2 separate regions of the Homo sapiens genome follow, and region 2 is linked to region 1. The links come from fine-mapping of genetic effects on gene expression. A gene starts in region 1. The other region holds a variant in brackets. All regions are shown on one strand. Distances are from middle to middle. Region 1 holds the start of ENKD1 (enkurin domain containing 1). Region 2 overlaps GFOD2 (Gfo/Idh/MocA-like oxidoreductase domain containing 2).

Region 1 (5,368 bases):
GGGCCAAACACCTGCTTCCCATGACCCAACAGACCCTTTCTTTTCTCTGCCCCAAGTTCCTCCTTCTCACTTCCCTCTTCATCACCCAGTTAGCTGCCTGACCCTCAGATTCACCTAAACACACAGCACCAGGTCCACCCTGATTCAGTGAGGCATGGGGTGGCACAAAGGAATCTGTCATTGTCAAAGTCTCAGGTGATGCAGATGACCATTCAGGCCTCAAACCCTGCACTGTTGAGTCCTCCATCCTCTTACCCATTTCAGGCAACCTATCTGGGGAATCACAAAGTCTTTGAAAAAGAAAAATATTTATTTTCAGCAAGACCAAAGTCCCAAGTGGGGGCAGGTGCCAAATTTGCCCCCGCCACCAGAGGGCCTAGGCCCACAGGAAGCCTGAAGCCAAATTCAGGCGTGGAAGGAGGGGAGCCACCAGTGGGGCGGGACAGTCACTTGTACTGAGGAGAGAGCGGGGGGACAAGTGGAGCAGTGCAGACACTCAGCATCTTGTCGATGTCCACCTGGGTTGACTTATCCACCTCGGCCTTGTGGTCACTCACCCCCAAGCTGGGCAAGCCCCCAGGCTCCTCTCCAGCCTCCTCTCCGAGGGGAGCCAGGGCATGGGTGGGGGTCACTAGTGGACTGGGACAGGGCAAAGCGAGGCCTGGGCCCAGCTCACCTGCCAAGGGCAGCAAGGCCTGCAGTTGCTCCACACCTCCCTCCTCGGGAACCGGGGCCAGCTCTGCCTCTGCCTCCACCTCAGCCTCCCCGTCCCCCTTCCCTGCCTGGTTCAGCTCAGGGTTGCAATAGTTGACGTACTGGTACAGCGGCCGCAGGCGCTGGGCCTTTCCTGCAAAGACCCAGGGCAGGGCAGAGGCTAGAGCGCCAGGTTGTGCCATGTCGGGCCCCACAGGCAGGGGGAGAAGGAACAGTCCAGGGACTGCCACTCACGCTCCAGCCTCAATGTCTCTAAGGGTGCAGACACCATGCTGGCCACAGCGTGGAGCACGGGAGCCCCCAGGCTCTTGCGCTTCTTGGCTTTTTTGTGCTGTTTGGCAGATGGTGAGGGCTCACTCTGGCTGTCCTCTGGCTCCTCCTCCTGCAGCGGCAGCTTGGGTGGCAGCTCAGCTTCAGCCTTAAGATGGGCACGAAGGCCCGGGAGGCTGAGAGACCTGAGCCAGGGACAAGAGACTTGAGCCAGGCTCCAGCCCTGGCTCCCATTCCCTGGCCCAGGGAATAGCCCAGCCTGCCCACAGCCCCAGGGCTCGACGCCTGTCCCGTTCCTGGTCAATGAGACCCCAGGCCCAAGAGGCTTAGAGGCCAGTGAGCCCAGGCCCCTACAAGCCCTGAAGCTCCCACTCTCCTGCTGCTCCCTACACGGGGGCTCTTGAGGAACGGGAGGAGAGTGATGGTAGTGGCTGGGGACGAGAATCCTCCCTGCAGGAGTGCAGGATTTAGGAATCCTACTGTGGTGTGTGCCCCAACCCCGGGGCTGCAGCTCCTTCCCCCCGAGAGCCCCCTCACTTGACAGGCTTTCTCTTTGGACCATGACGGGGCCTCACAATGGAGACCACGGGCCTGGGGCCTCTCTCCTCTAGCGCCCCGGCATGCGGCTTGGGCCGCTCCTCCCCCAGCTTGGGTCCTTCCTCCTGGAGCTCCGACTCCGAAGCTGCGCCTGCTGGGCGCTGGTCTTCACTCTGGGTTCCGCGGGCCTCATGGGCAGGCACCAGGAACTGGTCTCCCGCCACTGGACACTAGAGATGACACACAGGCCATCGGTCACCATGGCCGGGCAAAGGACATAGGGATCCGTCACTGAACACCTAACGTTAGACACCGAAACGGGAATAAGGACACCAGCCTGTGCCCCTCCCCGCCTGGAGGGCCCAGCCTGGCAGTTAGCGGGTCGGGGCGCTCAGTTCCACCTCTCAGAGCGCTGCGGCCCTGTGTTTGAAGGTTAAACAGCCTGACGGTCACCTCGGAGGTCTGAGCGCTGCCGGGCTCCTCCGTGAGCTGTCCCTGCCCCACGACCGTCGCCTCCTGGACCCCCGGCCGCCTCTCCGCCCCTGCCGAGGCCATGGCTGCGCAGGCTGAGTGCGTCCTCGACAGCTGCTTGGGGCGGGCCCCAAGGGGCTGGATGGTGGCCCCGCGCTGACCCCGGAGACCGGCCAGCAAGCGAGGGCAGAGCTGGGAAGAGAAACCGGCGACCGCGGAGCCCACCCTCGGCCGAAACTACAAGCCCCAGGACGCTTTGCGCCGGGGTCAGTGGGCCCTGACCCCGGGGACGGAAGCCACGGTTGCCCGGCAACAACAAGTCCCGTCGGGTGGCAGCGGCTGGCGGCAAAACCTCTCGAGTGAGCCCCTGCCCGAGTGCCGCGGGGGAGAGGCCGCGAGCGGGACCGAGAAGTGGGCTGGGAGCAGAGGTCGCGGAGGTGGCGAGCGAGGCCGGGGCCCAGGCGGGGACCGGCAGGGGCCCGGGAGTGGCGGGCACGCCAGGGTCAGGGTGCCGGGCGAGGGAGGGGGCCCGGGGTTGGGGAAGGGGGCCCGGGGAGGGAGGTAAACAGCCCTGCAGGCCTCGGGGCACCGTTGCTGGGCGGCGCCGGCGGCATGTGCGAGGGCCCGTCCCGCATCTCGGGGCCCATCCCCCCAGACCCGACGCTCTGTCCTGACAACTACAGGCGGCCGACCTCGGGTGAGTCCGGGGGCTTGGCGGTGGTGCGAGGCTCAGGGGTCGGCCCTGGCTCCACCTCTGAGCCCCGGACTCCGCCCGGCTCCGCCCCACAGCTCAAGGGCGCCTCGAGGGAAACGCGCTGAAGCTGGACTTGCTGACTTCCGACCGGGCCCTGGACACCACCGCTCCCCGTGGCCCCTGCATCGGTCCCGGTGCCGGAGAGATCCTGGAGCGCGGCCAGCGCGGCGTCGGGGACGTGCTGTTGCAACTCGAGGGGATCTCCCTAGGTCCTGGGGCCTCTCTCAAGAGTAAGTCCCAGGAATGGAAGAAGGGACAGAGAGGCAGTGCGGGGTGGAAAGAGATCAAAAGCAGCTGCTCTTTCCACCCTGACGTGGGCCCAGGCTTTGCATCTCTTGAGTCTCAGTTTCCCCAACTATAAAAGGGGGAGAAATATGCTACCTTCTCGAAGGAGGTGAACTGAATGAGGTAGTTCCCACGAAGCCCTAGCTCTGCTTTATGCATTTGTTACCCATTAAATTTGTTTGTTGAGTGCCTACTGTGTGCCAGGCCATATAGATGCTAGAACACAGGGCTGAAGATAAGCATGAGCCATCACTGAGTCAAGGTGGGATACAAAGATCAAGAGATGAATGTCATATATGAGATGATCTATGGTGTACTTCAATGGTGTACTTCACTATAATAATGGAGGAAATCACCTGGGCGCAGTGGCTCACTCCTGGAATCCCAGCACTTTGGGAGGCCCAGGCGGGCAGATCACTTGAGTCCAGGAGTTGAAGACCAGCCTGGCCAACATGGTGAAACCCCATCTCTACAAAAAATACAAAAATCAGGCTGGCATGGTGGAGTGTGTCTGTAATCCCAGCTACTCGGCAGGCTGAGGTAGCCGGGGAGGTTGAGGCTACAGTGAGCTATGATCATGCCACTGTACTCCAGCCTGGGTGACAGAGTGAGACCCTGTCTCAAATAATAATAATAATAATAATAATGGAGAAAATCATCCTGTGATACTTACTACATGAGGAAGGGAACACGGTGATGAGGGAGAGTGTGTGTAGGGTCTAAGGTAGTTGGAGAGGTCAGGGAGCTCTTTCTGTAGGAGGCAGGGGGCAGGCCTGTGTGTGAACTAGTGGAAGTTGGACTGTGTGGGCCCCATGTAGGGCAGAACCTGGGGGCATCTTTTCTCCAGGGAAGGACCCTAAGGACCATGAGAAGGAGAACCTGAGGCGGATCAGGGAGATTCAGAAGCGCTTCAGAGAACAGGAGCGCAGCCGGGAGCAGGGCCAGCCCAGGCCCCTGAAAGCTCTGTGGCGCTCACCCAAGTACGACAAGGTGGAGTCCCGGGTCAAGGCCCAGCTCCAGGTACCTGCTTCAGGGAGCCAGAAGTATTATCCATTTTGTTGGCCAACAGGCAACTGTACCCTGATCTGAGTTCTGGGGTGGGAGGGAAGTCACAGAGGTAACAGAGGACTAAGAGACCCTGGCTCTGCTGCAGGGCGAGGCTGGGGGGCTTCTCAGAAGTAGTGATGGTGGGGCTGATCCTGAGGGCAAGTAGCAATTAGTCAAAGGGACAGCAGAAGAGAACATTCCCAAAAGATGGAACCTCACAGACCACAGGGCACGCAGCAGTGGAGATGCTAGGTACAGTTCACTGTGAGGAAAGAAGGGCGTGAAGTTAGGCCAAGAAGTCAGCTGGACCCACGTCAGGGGCCACAAAAGCCACTTTTCAGCCCTTATTTCTGAGGACAGTGGGAAGGGCAGGGGTATGGTGGGGGGCTCTGTCTCAGGGACTCAGTAGGAGGAGCAGGAGTGAGAGGAAAGGCAAGGTCACACAAATGTGTTGTAGCTGAAGCATCTGTGGGGTTCCCAGGGGGTGGGAGTGTGTCCAGGAAGCAGATGGAAATTCAGGCCTGGATCTCAGGAGTGAGACCTAGGAGTTATTGACGATCAGGTTGAGGACAACGAGACCAAGGAATTGACCGCCTGGATTTGAGGACTTGGAGGCCAGCTGTTAGGAGCCTTGCAGGGCTAGAGCCAGGAAGCTTGGCTAGGAAGGAGGAAAGAGAGTGGTAGCTGGGCCAGTACTGAGGTGGAAGGAGAGATGGTTTGTTGTTTTCTTAAAAATCTGACATACTCACACATTTGTGTGCTGATGAGGACAAGTGTCCCTTGAAGAGGGAAGAGGGCCCGAGGGACATGGATGCAAAGGTCAGAAGGGCCAAGATGGCCAGGGTCTTGCAGCTTGAGCCCCAGACCTCAGCCTGCCTGCTCTCTCTGCTGTGCCCTGCCCTCCAGGAGCCTGGCCCTGCCTCTGGGACAGAGTCTGCCCACTTCCTGCGGGCGCACTCCCGCTGCGGCCCTGGCCTCCCACCACCCCATGTATCTAGTCCCCAGCCAACCCCACCAGGTCCCGAAGCTAAGGTGAGAGGATGTATGGGGGCTAGATGGTGGTTGGGCAGGGCTCCTGGTGTGGGGGGGGTGTTCAGGGACACAACATAATGCTGTCTGCCCCCACCCACGCTTGCTGTGTCCTGCAGGAGCCAGGCCTGGGGGTGGACTTCATTCGTCACAATGCACGAGCTGCCAAGAGAGCCCCCCGGAGGCATTCCTGCTCACTGCAGGTCCTGGCACAAGTGCTAGAGCAGCAGCGGCAGGCCCAGGAGCACTACAATGCCACGC
Region 2 (5,368 bases), 44 kb before region 1:
GGGGTGGCGGCCGGGCAGAGGCTGCAATCTCGGCTCTCCGGGAGGCCAAGGCAGGCGGCTGGGAGGTGGTTGCAGCGAGCCGAGATCACGCCACTGCACTCCAGCCTGGGCACCATTGAGCACTGAGTGAACGAGACTCCATCTGCAATCCCGGCACCTCGGGAGGCCGAGGCTGGCGGATCACTCGCGGCTAGGAGCTGGAGACCAGCCCGGCCAACACAGCGAAACCCCGTCTCCACCAAAAAAAAAACGAAAACCAGTCAGGCGTGGCGGTGCGCGCCTGCAATCGCAGGCACTCGGCAGGCTGAGGCAGGAGAATCAGGCAGGGAGGTTGCAGTGAGCCGAGATGGCAGCAGTACCGTCCAGCCTTGGCTCGGCATCAGAGGGAGACCGTGGAGGGAGAGGGAGAGGGGGAGGGGGAGGGGGAGGGGGAGAGGGAGAGGGAGAGGGAGCTCTTTATTACATTTTTAAACATTGCAAGAGCCTACTGATGGTTTTGGTGAGCTCAGTATATATGGTTTTCTATAGTATGGTTTTGATGGGCTCAGTATATATGTCTTAGTTTATTGACTGTGCAGGAACTAGGTCTGAAATCTTTCATTCTTTCAGCAAATATTTAGCACCAACTACATGTCAGACCTTGTTTTAGGCACTAGGGATATAGCAATGAACAAAACAGACAAAAAATTTGTTGTCTTCAAGGAGGATACATTCTAGCAGGGATGGTGGGGAGAGACAAACAATGGAAGAATACACCTGTTTCTGAAAAGCCAACATGGAAGTAGAGACCTGAAGGAAACGTGAGAGAGAGAGAGAAAGCCACGTGGATGTCTGCACAATAGAGGTTCTTGGATGCAGGGTATATTTTGAAGGTAGAGAGCCAGCAAGACTTGTTAATGGATCAGATGTGAAGTGTGAGAGAAAAAGAAGACTCAAGGATAACTCCAAGGTTTTAACTTGAGCATTTGAAAAGTTTGTGTTACCAGTTTCTGAGATGAAGGCATTGTGGGAAGAGTATGTTTGGTGGGGAGAAACATCAGGAGTTTAGTTCTGGACATTTTAAGTGTGAGATGCCTATTAAACATCCAAGTAGAGATGTTAATAGGCGGTTGTTTGCACCCGTCTGGAGCTTAAAGAGGACCTGGCTGATAACTTTGGGAGTCATCAGGGAATAGATAACATTTAAAAGCCATGACACTGAATGGAACCACCAAGGGAGTGAGTATAGATAGAAAAGAGAAATAGACTGGGGACTGAGCCATGGTTACTACAGTCACCATCAGGAGAAATGAGCAGAAGGAACCGAGAAGTGGTCAGAGAGGTAAGAGGAAAATCAGAAGAAATTTGTGTTGTGGAAGTCGGGTGAAGAGTGTTTCAAGGAGGTTGGAACCTGCCATGTCAGATGCTGCTGATAGGTCAAAGTGGGATGAAGGTGAGAATTGACCACTGGATTTAATTGTATTTGACAAAGATGAGATAGCTGAAGCTTGGTTATTTGTAGTATGATTTACAACCAATAATCCAGGGTTTTCAGCCATGATGCCTGAACACAGAGCATCATGAGAGAGTTGCATAATTGCAGTTTGAAGTTCTGAACATTGTACTTTTCCTTCCTACCTCTTTTGGAGTCTTCATTCTGAAGAAATGCTTTTGGGTCTGGTTACTGCTCTGGGGAAGGGGAGTGTCTGTTAATCACAAATTGGGTTTTTAATGACATTGGGCTGCTGTGCCTTTTACTGCACAACCAATGTCAATGTTTGGGTTTTTTTCATGGTGATGAAGACTTTATTCAGGACCATGGCGGCAGGTATAGGTACCTCTGCAATGAGTCTTGCAGTTGGGGAGAGAGACTGAGCTCAACTCTGAATAGAGCACAGCAAGTGGGGATTGATAGTCAAGGAGCAGGGTAGGGGTCAGTGGATAGAAAATGACTCACAATGTCAGTGTTTTTATCGTAATTGAGCCTCAGAGTGTGAAACCTTTCTCACGTGGAACTCAAAGTGCATTATAAATCTGTCATTGAACACTTTTAAAAATAAGGCTAACTGGCCGGGCGCGGTGGCTTATGCCTGTAATCCCAGCACTTTGGGAGGCTGAGGTGGGTGGATCACGAGGTCAGGAGATCGAGACCATCCTGGCTAACACGGTGAAACCCCGTCTCTACTAAAAAACAAAAAATTAGCCGGGCATGGTAGCAGGCGCCTGTAGTCCAGCTACTCGGGAGGCTGAGGCAGGAGAATGGCGTGAACCCGGGAGGCGGAGCTTGCGGTGAGCTGAGATCGCACCACTGCACTTCTCCACTTCGTCTCAAAAAACAAAG[G/A]CTAACTTTGGGAGGCCAAGGCGGGCAGATCACTTGAGGTGAGGAGTTTGAGACCAGCCCGGCCAACATGGTGAAACCCGGTTTCTACTAAAAATACAGGGCTGGCGTGGTGGCTCATGCCTATAATCCCAGCACTTTGGGAGGCCTAGGCAGGAGGATCATTTGAGCCCAGGAGTTCGAGGCTACAGTAAGCTATGATCGCCCCACTGCACTCCGGCCTGACCAACAGAGCAAGACCCTGTCTCTAAAAAAATAATAAATAAAAATACAAAAAAAATTAGCTGGGTGTCGTGGCTCACAGTTGTATCCCAGGTACTCGGGAGGCTGAGGCAGGAGAATCATTTGCACCCAGGAAACAGAGGTTGTGGTGAGCCAAGAGTGCACCACTGCACTCCAGCCTGGGTGACAGAGTGACACTCTGTCCCCAAAAAATAAAAAATAGATAAACATAAGGCTAATTTGGCTGGGCACGGTGGCTCACGCCCGTAATCCCAACACTTTGGGAGGCTGAGACGGGCGGATCACTTGAGGACAAGAGTTGAATACCAGCCTCAAGACCAGCCTGGGCAATATGGGAAACCCCGTCTCTACCAAAAATACAAAAAAAATAGCTGGGTGTGGTGGCATGTGCCTGTGGTCCTAGCTACTCAGGGGGCTGAAGTGGGAGGAATGCTTGAACCCAGGAGGCAGAGGTTGCAGTGAGCTGAGATCATGCCACTGCACTCCAGCCTGGTGACAGAGTGAGACTCCATTATAATAATAATAAGGCTAATTTATATCCTGCTGAGTCTCTCATAGCACCATTCTTTTCCTTTATAGCATTTAATCTCAAATCATAATTACATATTTATGTGATTATTTGATTATCTTATCTCTCCTCCTAGACTGTACACTCTTTGCAAGCAGAAACTATATCTGTTTGGCTTACTGAAGTATCCTGCACTTTGCTGAGGCCTGGCTCATAGTCTGTGCTTAATAAGTATTTATTAATCAATCTACATAAATTACAGGTGTCATTTTATACACAAGCACCTAAAACACCTAATCAGCCTAGCTAATGTCCCAATCTTTTTTTTTTTTTTCTTTTGAGATAGGCTCTGTTGCCCAGGCTGGAGTACAGTGGTGCAATCACAGCCCACTGCAGCCTTGACCTACTGGGCTCAAGAGATCCTCCCACCCCAGTCTCCTCTCCTGAGTAGCTGGGACTACAGGTTTGTGCCACCATGCCTAGCTAATTTTTGTATTTTTTGTGGAGAAGGAGTTTTGCCATGTTGCCCAGGCTGGTCTCAAACTCTTGGGCTCAAGTGATCCACTTGCCTCGGCCTCCCAAAGTCCTGGGATTACAGGTGTGAGCCACTGCTCTCAGCCCTACAGTTTGTTTTAAGTTAGGTTGAGGATCTGTCTCACTTCATAACTAGGGCCGTGACCCTCACCTCTGGCCCCAGTGCTTTATATTAGGATGAAATTACTGAAAAGAATTCACAGAAAAATCAAATTATCAAATGAGTCTTATTTGCATTTCAAATAAAGGGAATTCTACAGTATGGGTCTTGACACTGGCCTTTTGGAATGTGCCTGAGGGGACAGAGGTGTGCATCAAGTCTGTGGAGGTGCCTCTCAGGATGCAGTGCTCTGGAAGGTGTGGGGCTGGATCTGGGGCTAGTCTCATGGTGAGTGGCCCTTGAGGCACAGTGGAGGCTGACACTAAGTGAGGGCTTGCCACTCTTTCAGTGCCAAGTCTTATTGCCCAACCTGTATAGCTACAACTGCAAACTGATACATACCAATGCTCTATGAATAGCCATCATTAAATTTGCTTGCCAGAAATGATACGGGAGAACCCCTTTTGAACCCTCCCTTCCTCAGTATGAGTTGTTCATGAGTGGTGAGGACTTCCTAACATCTGGAGCTCAGCCACTCACCCAGTGTGACACACTGCCCAGGGAAAAGTGCCATCTTCAGATACGCTCAGCAAGTGCTGGGATTCACCAGCCTACTGGGCCTTAGCTTGAAGTTTCTTTCTCAGAAAACTTATTCTCTTGGCCCCAGCCTGTACCGATGATGTCCCCAAAAGTAAGCTTACAGGTTTTTTTGTTTTGTTTTAAAGGAAAGAGACTTCTAATTCACACATATCCATTTAGTTTGATTACAGAACTGAATTTGCAAGGTGTGAACAGGTTGTTCTATGTCCTTGGGCACAACTACTTAAGGTGATTAAAAATTAAGGTATAATTTACATACAATTAAAAACACAGATCTTAAATATTCAATTTGATGAGTTTTGACAGTTGTACCACCATGTAACCCAAGCACCAAACAAGATACAGAACATTTCCATCACTCTAGAATGTAGCCTTGTGCCTCTTTCTGTTCGATTCCCTCCGCCTCAGCCACCACCGCCACTGCCGCCTTCTGACTAGTGTTGCTATAAATAAGGCTGGCTTATTCCTGAATTTCAAAAAAGTGGAATTCTACAGTATGGGTCTTCTGTGTGTGGGCCTGCCATCTTTCACTCTACATAATGTTTTTAAGATTCATACAGGCTAGGCGAGGTGGTTCATTGTAATCCCAGCACTTTAGAAGACTGAGGCAGGGGGATCACTTGAGGCCAGCAGGTTGAGACCAGCCTGGGCAACACAGTGAGACTCACATCTCTACAAAAAAATTAATAAAATTTTTAAAAAGAAAAAAATTCATTAATAGTTAATTCCTTTTTACTGTTTTACTGTATTCCATTGTGTGACATCATAATTTATGATGTGAACATTTGTTTCTAGTGTGGGGCCATTATGAATAAGGCTGCTGTGAACATTTGTATAATTTTTTTTGTGGACTTATGTTTTTATTTTCTTAGATAAATATCTATAAGTGGAGTTGCTGTGATTGGGTTGATATATGTTTAACTATAAGAAACTGTCAATTTTCCAAAGTGGTTGTACTGTTTTACATTCCCACCAAGAATGTATGGGAGTTCCATTTGCCGCATATCCTCTCCAAACTTCAGGATTGTAAGTCTTTTTTTTTTTTTTTTGAAATGGAGTTTCACTC

What was found. PIP is the estimated chance that this variant, and not a neighbour inherited with it, causes the effect.
Region 2: its variant is the best candidate, but not a certain one, in a credible set for the expression of ENKD1 in whole blood (TOPMed, PIP 0.66).

What each region holds. Positions count from the first base shown.
Region 1 is chr16:67,663,679-67,669,046 of GRCh38, reverse strand. ENKD1 (enkurin domain containing 1) reads left to right here and starts at 2,297. Exons shown (of 7, transcript NM_032140.3): 1 at 2,297-2,689; 2 at 2,782-2,976; 3 at 3,879-4,051; 4 at 4,985-5,110; 5 at 5,227-5,368. The coding sequence starts at 2,605. C16orf86 (chromosome 16 open reading frame 86) reads right to left here and starts at 2,233. Exons shown (of 4, transcript NM_001012984.3): 1 at 1,975-2,233; 2 at 1,522-1,751; 3 at 949-1,169; 4 at 292-847. The coding sequence starts at 2,076. The coding sequence ends at 447. RefSeq lists silencers at 1,866-1,915, 1,996-2,045, 2,066-2,115, 2,456-2,725.
Region 2 is chr16:67,707,341-67,712,708 of GRCh38, reverse strand. The region is part of intron 1 of GFOD2 (Gfo/Idh/MocA-like oxidoreductase domain containing 2); the gene reads left to right. Among named protein-coding and RNA genes, the nearest start is that of GFOD2, 9.3 kb to the left of the region's middle. RefSeq lists enhancers at 1,823-2,600, 2,601-3,379. The variant G/A (reference allele first, on the strand shown) is at 2,321.